3 linked regions of the Homo sapiens genome follow. The protein of the gene in region 3 interacts with the protein of the main gene of each other region in a biochemical or structural test. Each region holds a gene or a part of one and is shown on either strand. Other genes may lie near its edges. The genes, in order: SLC15A5, EZH1 and PDZRN3.

What was found.
Region 1: the proteins of PDZRN3 (region 3) and SLC15A5 interact in a test that uses a peptide from one of them, tested with the Homo sapiens proteins (one large-scale study listed by IntAct).
Region 2: the proteins of PDZRN3 (region 3) and EZH1 interact in a test that uses a peptide from one of them, tested with the Homo sapiens proteins (one large-scale study listed by IntAct).

The regions. Positions count from the first base shown.
Region 1 is NC_000012.12:16,243,154-16,246,807, forward strand, and holds part of SLC15A5 (solute carrier family 15 member 5), read right to left. Parts: intron 1,871-3,654; exon of another isoform or gene 1,678-1,870; intron 1,648-1,677; coding exon 1,427-1,647; intron 1-1,426. UniProt on the Homo sapiens protein: Proton oligopeptide cotransporter.
Region 2 is NC_000017.11:42,710,454-42,714,107, forward strand, and holds part of EZH1 (histone-lysine N-methyltransferase EZH1), read right to left. Parts: intron 2,937-3,654; coding exon 2,756-2,936; intron 2,033-2,755; coding exon 1,836-2,032; intron 1-1,835.
Region 3 is NC_000003.12:73,397,920-73,401,573, forward strand, and holds part of PDZRN3 (E3 ubiquitin-protein ligase PDZRN3), read right to left. Parts: intron 3,091-3,654; coding exon 3,003-3,090; intron 1-3,002. UniProt on the Homo sapiens protein: E3 ubiquitin-protein ligase. Plays an important role in regulating the surface level of MUSK on myotubes. Mediates the ubiquitination of MUSK, promoting its endocytosis and lysosomal degradation. Might contribute to terminal myogenic differentiation.

The sequences.
Region 1 (3,654 bases), on a different chromosome or scaffold from region 3:
TAAAACTTCATTTATGGACGCTAAAATTTAAATTTTATATATTTTTCTTTGCTTTTTCTCTTTTTTTTTTTTTTGAGATGGAGTTTCATTCTTGTTTCCCAGGCTGGAGTACAATGGCATGATCTCTGCTCACCGCAACCTCCGCCTCCTGGGTTCAAGCGATTCTCCAGCCTCAGCCTCCCAAGCAGCTCGGATTACAGGCATGGCCACCACACCTGACTAATTTTGTATTTTTAGTAGAGACGGGGTTTCTCCATTTTGGTAAAGCTGGTTTCGAATTCCCGATCTCAGGTAATCTGCCTGCCTCGGCCTCCCAAAGTGCTGGGATTACAGGTGTAAGCCACCACGCTGGGCTAAATTTTATATAATTTTCATGTGCTAGAAAATACTATTCTTTTTTTAATTTTTTTCAAACATATAAAAATGTAAAAATCTTCTTAGCTTACAGGATGTACAAAAATAGTGGACTGGATTTGGCCTTCAGATAGTGGATGGCTAACCCCTGGTTTAGAGGGGCAAGCACTGTACTGAGAGGCAGAGGACAGATTCCGCTTTCCCTTACACTACTATTAACTGTGACCTACGGTGCCTCACCTCTACCAAAAGAAAGTCACTTAATTTTTCTGAGCCTAAGGTTCCTGTTTAACAAATAAAGTAGTTTATGAAGTTAATCTCTAAATTTTGTTGCAGCTCTATTATTCTATGATTTCTAAATGTAACTCATTCATGAGTCTTCTAAATTCCAAGTTGGGAGTTAGCAATGAACAAAGTCCCAGATTTGTTCAAATACTTTTGTAATCATTTATTTTTCTCAGTAAATAAGTTAGTCTTTAACTCTAACCACATTAAAAAAATTTAAAATCACATATATCTATAAAAGGTACTTTGGGCTTTGTATTTTCTCTTGATTTTCTCACAGCACAGGAACGAATTCCCCAAGGAACTAATAGAGTGGGTGGGGAGAGAATCACTTGCTCATTAGTACTTATATTTAAGAGTACAGTGGAGGTGGTACTCAAATCAGTCAGTTTAGCTACTCGTTAGTACCACTTTCTAAAGGTTTAATGAGGGAGGAAGGCAAAACCTTTGGCTAAAGGGAAGTTTGGTAATTGCCTACAGATCTGATATGTTCGTGCACTGCTCTTACGCCTTACGACTATGCATTCTGAAGTACTGTCTGCACCTACTGACAGACATTTATAGCTCCACAAAAGAAACACATCCCAGGGTCTCCTCAGGTATACCTCTGCCTGACCCCGCTTAGCTCTGGAAATCAGAGCCTGTAATGATGAGAAGTTTCTGTGGGGATAACTGCCTGCCGACATATATGGAAAGCGCTCGTTGGGGAGAAAATTCACCTTGACTTGCACTGTTGACATGCAATCACTTTCCTGTTGTTGGGGTAGTACTCATCGCCTGTCCTTACCTGCATAATGCACATTCTGTATAGGAGCTGAAAAATGAAGAGAGGGAGAAGGGTGAGGAAAAATGTTGTGTCTTCTACATGGAGCTCACTGTAGCAGCCACCATTTTTTTCTTTGGCATGGTCTAACTGGCTTGTCACGTCTCTGCCAAGATGGCAGTATTGCGGGTGGCATGTTTTCAGTGCACTAACCAACACCCCAACGCCTGTCAGGAGAGAACAACCTGCAAGTAATCGGAGATATTATGTATTAGTATAGGAATTGTTCTCCAGTTTTTCAAGATGCTGATCAGAAAGATAACGATTCAAGGATTCACGGCAGTGAAGTGAGAAAGTTTTTAGCACCCAAGGGGTCGGACTCAAAGGACCACGCTTCTGACAGTGATTCTGGCATCCTGATGACCAGCCCATGGTGGCACCTAGCAGTTGATGTCAAAAGTGTAAAAGGTAAGATCAATGAAAACATATTAAAAGGGAAAGAAAGGTGACAAAATAATACGCCAAAGTTAAGGACTTCAGAATCTCTCAGAAGTCTCTAACTTTAATGCATTAATGAATACAATAAACTGAACTTTCTTTAACATCCTTAACACAAAGAACTAGTACTATTTTTTCATATAAATTATTATATAAATAATCCTCATTTTACTTGGCAGGTAGAGGGTGGCTTCTTATTGTGACATGGAGATGAAGGGAAATGTAATCTCTGCTTTGACTTTATCCTTGGATTTAGAAATAAGGTTAGACTATGAACTCTCTAAATGATTTTATGCATGTTGATAGTGTCATTAAGAGTTCAGATTAGATTAGTTGGCTTTTGACTTTTCCAGTAGTTTCTTCTAGGTTTACATGGCTGTTGCTGCACGATCAGAAGCGCTTTATTGCTTCAGATGGCAGCAGTCACTTACTGCTAGTGATTTGCAACCTCATTGTTGCTTCTTTTATGATCTTTTAGTTCCTACCTTTTCTTTGACTCCATTAGGATTTCCTGATACAATGACAGATAAGAGACCCCCGTTTAGGCAGCAGTTCAGCTGTGCTGTCATGATAGTTACAGGTTTTCATAGCACTCCCTTTGACCAGATAAATCCCCCCAGAAATTACGTAGACACCAAACTACTGTTGCCAGGTAAATGGCATAATAAATGTGAAAATGTTTGTGTTTCTCCAAAGAAGGCTGCTATAGAAACTCAAAGTATAGTTTGAAAGTCATTTTGATTATGTTCAAGTTTCCTATAATAAAATTCTAGATAAAATGCATTCTAATGAAATTCATTTATATGCCATAGAGTCTTGGTTTTTATGTTTAAATAAAGAATATGTATTAATATATTTTTATAGCTATAAAGTGGTTAGATTGATTTGATCTGGTCTTTTCTTCAAGAGTTGTAATAGACCCATTATGTCAGCCTTTGATTAATTGAGGAAGCTGGGGGCCTGGTAATTGAATATGGAGCCTTTCACCTCTAAGTCACTGAATCAAATCCAGCCCAAATTGGTAGTGACCAAGAATGATTACAGCTGTGGCTCTTTGGTGGCCTTTGTGAAGTGTGTTTAGGTCATCTGGGAGTATGTTGGGATACTTGCTAACAGGAGATAGGCTTATATCTATGGTCACTTTTGTCTCTTCTTAGTCACTATTGCCTGAAGTAGATGAAGGCCCAGGTACTGGTAAGGCCAAGAAGACAGAAGCCACTGTGAGAGGCCAAGATTTGTTTCTCTTAGGAAAGAAGTAATAGGGACTGCTCTTTATTATTAGAGAATGAACTGCTCTATTATGAGACTTTCCTAGCTATTTCAATTAGTTTACTTAAGGTTTAGGTAAGATGAGAACAGAGAATGTGTTGATGAACAGTCTGGAGACTGAATTCGAACAAGCCTGGGCTGGGTGGCTTAACTTCCTGACATTTCCTTACAATCTTGTCTCTATTACTCATCAACCTGTTCTCTGCTAAACTCTTGCAGAGTGGTGCTGGGTAGATAGTAGGGTTATTATGAACACTGATCCAAATTAACTTTATGCTTTCAGATAGGTTTGATTATTAAATGATAAGTACTTGCAGGATGAAAGATTATTTCCAAAGATATTTTCCCCAGTTTCCCCCCAATTTTTAAAATTCAGGAATTTGTATTAAATATAATATATTTTAAACTCACTAACCGTTTTTTTGTATAAACAATCACTATTTGTTGCAAGATAAACTTGGATCTGCTTCTAATACATGACAAAT
Region 2 (3,654 bases), on a different chromosome or scaffold from region 3:
TGGCCCTTTGTGGGGGATCTTTGAAAACTGTAACTATTCTCAGGAAAATACAGACAAGAACATTCTTGCATACAAATCCATAGATGGTTACGTTGAGAACCTGTGATCAGGGAAATAGGTATGAGCTCCAAAATGAAAGCAAAGGGCACTTCAGCTCATGGTTCTGTTTTTGTTTGTTTTTTTTTTTTTTTTTTAAGAGAGAGGGTCTCATACTCTTGGCCAGGCTGGAGTGCAGTGGTGCCATCATAGCTCAATGTAGTATAGAACTCCTGGGCTCAAGCCATCTTCCCACCTCAGCCTCCTGAGTACTAGGACTACAGGTACGTGGCTTTTTTTTTTTTTTTTTTTTTGTAGAAATGGGGTCTCACTTTGTTGCCCACACTGGTCCTGAAATCCTGGCTTCAAGCGATCCTCCCACCATGGCTTCCCAAAGCACTGGAATTCTAGGTGTGAGCCACCTTGCCCAGTCCATGGTTCTATTAATTGTTCTCAGTACAGGAAGCATGAAGAAGAGGCCACAGAGTCTCCTCCAGAAGGTAGGAAGCCAAAGCATTGGGGTTCCTTTCCTGTTGGACATGCTGGCCCTGACAGCTGCCTCCTTGTCCCTGTTCTTCAGTCTGTCTTCTCACTGTGGTCTTTTCCTGTCTTTTCCTGGGCCAATCACTTGAGGTCAGGAGTTTGAGACCAGCCTGGCCAACATGGTGAAACCCCATCTCTACTAAAAAAAAATACAAAAATGGCCAGGCACATTGGCTCATGCCTGTAATCCCAGCACTTTGGGAGGCCGAGGCGGGTGGATCACCTGAGGTCAGGAGTTTGAGACCAGCCTGGCCAACATGGTGAAACCCCGTCTCTATTACAAATACAAAATTAGCCGGGCGTGGTGGTGCACACCTGTAATCCCAGCTACTTGGGAGGCTGTGGCAGAAGAATCACTTGAACCTGGGAGGCGGAGGCTGCAGTGAGCTGAGATCATGCCACTGCACTCCAGCCTGGGCAACAGACCGAGACTCCATCTCAAAAAAACAAAACAAAAAAAATTAGCTGGGTGTGGTGGTGGGCACCTGTAATCCCAGTTGCTTGGGAGGATGAGGCAGAAGAATCACTTGAACTTGGGAGGCGGAGGTTGCAGTGAACCAAGATTATGCCACTGCACCACTCCAGCCTGGGCAACAGAGCGAGATTCTGTCTCAAAAAAAAAAAAAAATTAGCTGGGCATACTGGCCTGCACCTGTAGTCCCTTGCTACTTGCTTGGCTGAGGGGAGAGGACTGCTTGAGCCCAGGAGGCGGAGGTTGCAGTGAGCTATGATCATGCCACTGCACTCCAGCCTGGGCGACACAGTGAAACCCTGTCTCAAAGACAAAATAAAGATAATCTAGTGATAGAAAATGTGGAGAATAAAATGACTGAAGAGGCTGGCGGAGTGGTGGAGGGAGCAGCAGCTGCAGCAGCTGCAGCAGCAGCAGCAGTGTGCTCATTAACAAGAGCCACAGAAAGACCTGGGAGTCCCTTCTGGGAAAGGGGTACACATTTAGAAAGGAGGCCAGAGCCAAAAAAAAGAAGCGAAAGAGTGTAGGACCCAGAAGCATTAAATAGAGTCCAGACAGAAATGAGCATTCAGCAAGGAGGAGGCGGGTCCCCAAACATCATTAGGCCTGGCACTTGCAGAAGGGCCATGTTTGGGAAACTCACAGAAGCACAGGCTCATCAGGGACTGAACTTAAGACAACTTCTCTCCAGACCCAGACACACAGCCTGGTAAGATGGCAAAGGGCTGGACAGAGCAATGCGTGAAAGGAGGGGCCCATTTGTTCTGCTGCTTCCAGATGGTACCTGCTTGCACGTCTTGGTCCCCAGAAGCCTGGCTATTGAACAGAAGTTGTTGAAGTAGGTGCCATGGAAGACTCGAAAAAGAGATTCTTCAGCCCCAGTCCATTCCACAGGCTCCGAGGGTGCTTCCACTACGCAGAGTTGAGGTGGGGCTGGACTAGCCTTCTGTTTTGTGGGAGTCTGACAGCGAGAGTTAGCCTCTGAGAAGGGAAGAAATAACAGAATCAGAAGAAGGTAGAATGCAGTTGTCATCAGTAGTTTGTCACAAACTCAGAAGTACTTCATTCTACTTTAAAAGGTAGAACAGTTAGGAATGAAAATATTCCCTATCTTTAGGCCAGGCATGGTGGCTCACGCCTGTAATCCCTGCATTTTGGGAGGCCGAGGTGGGTGGATTGCTTGAGCTCAGGAGTTCAAGACCAGCCTGGGCAACATGGCGAAACCCTGTCTCTACTAAAAATACAAAAATTAGCCAGGCAGGGTGGCTCACGCCTGTAATCCCAGCACTTTAGGACGCCGAGGCAGGCGGATCACCTGAGGTCAGAAGTTCAAGACCAGCCTGGCCAACATGGCGAAACCCCGTCTCTACTAAAAATATAAAAATTAGCCGGGCGTGGTGGCAGGCACCTGTAATCCCAGCTACTTGGGAGGCTGAGGCAGGAGAATCGCTTGAACCTGGGAGGTGGAGGTTGCAGTGAGCCAAGATAGCACCACTGCACTCCAGCCTGGGCAAAAAAGCGAGAGACTGTTTCAAAAAAAAAAAAAAAAAAAAAGAAAATATTCCCCATCTTTACTGTTTACAAAACTTGTAGAAAGAATTTATAATTTTTAAGAGGTAGTAAAGTTAAGTGTCAGGCAGTGATCCTGGGTTTACCAGAGTCCTTGCATGGAAAGAAAAAGTCTTCATTTTCTGTTCATCGTACCTGAAGAACTGGAGGCCCAGTCATTGCCTGTGTCCCTGTCACTGTCTCCTTCTTTAGTCTCAGCCACAGCAGAGGCTGAGGCATTGGAGCAGGAAGCACTGACTATGTGGTGCCTTCTCCGGCGACGACCAGAGCACTTGGAGCGGGGGTTGTGGAGCATGGCATACTCCTTTGCTCCTTCCTGCAGTGGACACATTACAGACAGGAAATAGGAACAGGCCCATCACCATATTGATCTCATCATCACAAACTTTCATCTTTACAACATCTGTCTACAATAATAGTGTCTTTTCTTTTTCTCTGTACCATATAATAAGTATGATCATATAACAATGAGAGCTGCTTAACAAAACTTACGTACTTTTTCACAAAAGAGTTGTCCTATAATGTTTTTTTGTTTGTTTGTTTTTTTGAGACAGGGTCTCTCTCTCTTGCCCAGGATGGAGTGCAGAGGCCTGCTCACTGCAGCCTCGAATTCCTGGGCTCAAGTGATTCCCTTGCCTCAGCCTCCCAAGTAGCTAGGACCACACGCACATGTCACCATGCCCAGCTAATGTCCTATAATCTTAAAAAAGATATAATCTATGCATCTGTGTCTTCAATTTTCCAGTGAGTTGTATCTAAAATTAACTTGCGTGTTACTTGTTTGGAATTTGAGAACACATTCTCCTATGGATGAAGAAATGAGATTCAGAGAGGGGAAGAAACTAGCTTGAGAGTATGCAGCTAATAGTTCCAGAGGGGTATAGGAATCAGGGCTCCTTGTCTCCCTAGGCCACTATTCTTTCCAGTCTACCACACTTTCTCTGTTTCCTTAATAAAATGTGTAATGCTTAATCTGTACAATCTTACTACTTAATTTTGAAACTTCCTCCCAAATCTGTGTATGAAACTCAGAA
Region 3 (3,654 bases):
GAAGAAACGAAAAGCTAATGTCTAATGGTCCTAATGGCTTGTGAGCTCCTTAAGGGCAGGCAGAGTGGTGACTTCGTGATTTTGCATTTCTAGGGCCAAACAGTATATTTAATGTAAGAGACAATAAAATGAACAGAATTGAAAATAAACACGAATATAAAGTCTGATGGCATCCAAGGTCTAGCTTAAAATATTAATACCAGACTAGTTTTCTAAACACCTGCGTTGTGTCTGCTTTTATTCATGAAAAGAGAGAAGCAGTCTTAGGAACACAGTGTCACATGCCTACGAGGGGCTCAGTCGTTCCTAGGCCCTGATAATGTTACACTGCAGGGACAGTGTGGACAATATTCGTGACTTGGCGGCACATCTCGACACTGCAGTGAATGAAAGGCACCACAAAAGCCTCGCTGGTGTGACTCAAGAGAACAAGAGGAAATGATAGCTTGGGCTGCTTTATCTGGGTCTGTGGCCTGTAGGTCAGGGGTCCTCTGGCTTTAATGGGCACCGAGGTACCTAGGAACCTTGTTAAAGTGCAGATTCTGATTCTGAAGATCTAGGGGGCCAAGTTTCTGTAGTTCCCACATCTCCTAGGTGAGAACTCTACTTTGACCAGCCAGGCTGCTGGTCCTCCTACCACACTTTGAACAACAGGGTTCTAGGGAACAGTTTCTGAGTGGCTCCCTCCTGCTGAAAGCAGGATGCTCTCAGGTGCTTCATGCTTTGAGGAGAAAGACTCAGTCTGGGCTAGTCTTAACACTTCTTTAATACTAGCTAATCTCCTTAGAGAAAAGGCAGGATGTAGTGGCCCCAGGCTCCCAACCCTCAGCAGGCACCCTTATTGAGCACCAGGATTTAATAAATAACACTGGCTTGTGTCCACTGTATTTAATTGTATGGGATTTTCTATTTAAGGCAATGGATGCTGACTTTCTGCTTGACGCAGTGGTATAGTGTTTCCTTTAAAATAAAATTACCGTAGTTTAAATAAGTTGAGTCGAATTAAAGAGAAATAGAAAGCACGTAAGAGTTCTGGTGATAGTCAGGTATAAGGAAAAACTGTAAGGCAGAATGGCCCAAATTGGGCAGATACTGTGGGGGCTCAGTGAATCTCCTGAAACCATATGCAAGCTCTCACAGACAGGAGCATTTTTCCAGAGCGGGGGGCTGTAGGTTCCATCAGATTCTCAAAGGTATTAGAAACTAAAAAAAGAACTAAAGAACCCACTGCTACAAAGTCAAGTTTAACTAAATACCAAAGACTACAAAGTCTCTACTACTTCATAACTCTAGCTTCTGAAACACTTTACAGCTTTTTAAAAGAACTCTACTTTGCCACAATTACATCATCAAAAAGCAGTGTCGTCCCATAAAGATTACGAAATAGCCCTCTGTTTGGAGAGCAGTGTTTCTCCAACAGTGTTCCAGAGAACTGTAGACTGAGGAAATATAAACAGGTACTTGGCCAGAGAGGTGGGGGAAATTCTGCCCACTCCCCCAGGGGATTCTAGGTAGATAGTCAAGATTCTCAGAAGTCCTCCAAGAAATCTGTTTCGTTGTCTTCAGTCTGGCATTTCCCAAATGTATTTCATTATGAACCCCCTTTGGAAGGAACATACATAACAAATTAAGGAACAAGTGTCCTGAAGGAGTCACGGCTGCTTCACCAAACAGCCCTGAAGCTGGGGTGATAGGACACTAAATAAGAGGCAGAATCCTGATTTTTGAAAATGACAAAACTACATTTTCTGGAACAATTGTTAAATGGCAAGCGCTTTGGTAAGTGGCTGACAGCAAGCAGAAACAGTCAAGTTTTTATAGTGAGAATACTGGCCATTGCTGTTTAGACCAGGTGCATTTAGGGAAAATTTTAAATTTCTGAAAACTGGCACAGAGTCAGTCATGCCACTGGCAACAAGTCCTTTGATTTGACTGTATCTGGCTAACCATCAGTGAAGTCATCGTTTGCACACAATTATTGATTTTTAACTTCTGTCTTGGAATGAGAACTCTTGGTAACTTTAAGTTGAGGAACATAGCTGTTTTCTACTATTTGACTGCTTCTGTCCTTGCACAGAACCTACTGCCACTGAACAATTCAACTTCAGAAGTATTGGTAGGACAGCATAGATTACACAACAGTTAGCCATGAAATTGGATAAAATGTTCGATTTTTCCTGGGTGACCTTTTGATGGTACCCAAGGGCTTACCTGTCAACATCAGGTGTCTTTTTACCTTATTCCATAAAATCAGCTTTCAAAAATGCTGTTATATTTTTTGAAACCCCATTGAAATATAAAAGTGTTTTCCCCAAAATATAAATATATTATACAAGTTAGTGTTTTCTGTATTTTCTATCACCCTTAATAAAAGGAAAATGGGAAGTAGAACTCTGTTGGCAACCTGGTGTCCTCTAAATATTTTAAACCTTAACAGAGACCTATTTGACATTATGTAGCATCTTGAATCTTTATTCCTGTGTGGCCTCAAATAACACTTAAGAAGAGTTGCAGACTTGTTTAATTTCTTCTGTATCAATGTTAGCAAACTTGAAGCAAGTGAAGCAGTGAACAAACCCTTTTGTTAGGGCGGGCTAGCATTCACTCAAGTAATTTATCCACCTACTCTTGAGCCATCTGCCTTTGAGTAAAGAGTGGTGATGACATAAAAGGGAGGAAGGTGAGGAGGCTTATGTTAGTTACAAGAATGTATGGATTATGTGGATTCAAAGGTTGACAACAGGATTTACTGTCCTAACTTTTAAGTGATTCAAATTAAAAAAAGTTTACATTTCTGCTTTTGGGACTTGATTATTAAGCTCTGTTTCCAAGGAAGGAAGAAGAATCTCAGTTGTGCCTTTCAAAGGGCATCAGTAAAAGTGGTTCTGCTTTTGTTACTTTCCATCGGCATCCGTAAACTAATTTATGCTTATAGAGAACTTATTAGGCATTCTGTGTTCTTAATAATGACTCCTAAAATGAGACAAGGATGTTCTTCATACCTCCAGCTCCAGCTCCTCCCTGTCCATCTCCTGATGGATGTCTCCAATGTAGTCATTTGGATCGTAGTATTCATGGGCTGAGGGATGCCTGAAAAGAGATGCAACATCTTTACAGCCCTTCTTCCGTTGTCAGTATCTGTTTTTCTTACACCCATTGTCAGGCCAGTGGCACAGTAGCAATTCCCAGGGTGTGGGCCCTTTCATGACTCACTTCCCTCTGGATGGGGCTCTCAGCACGGTCAGGACCTCCATCATCCTAATTTTACCATTTGCCTTTAGTACATTTCCTCCTGAAGGACTTAAGATGCAAAGTGCAAGCCTGATGGGCTTTGTTGTTTGCAGAGCCCATCCCGGAGCCTGCCAGTCACGTGATTCAGCGTGACTGATTTCTAACTCCATCTCTACGCAGGAAACAGGACAATATTTTACTGCTTATTGCTTCATTGTTAGATTTTATCTCTGCAGAGAACTAGGCTCGAGCCCAGGCAACAGTCTAAGATATGTGCTGGCCTCTGAGATCAGTTCAAAAGGCTGAGAATGAAACTGTTCTGCTGTTACCTAGGACCGTGTCTTTTTGAATGTTACCCACAATAATATGTTTGATATCACAAACGTACAGTATGCACTTACATGGTTGAAATGCACATACAAA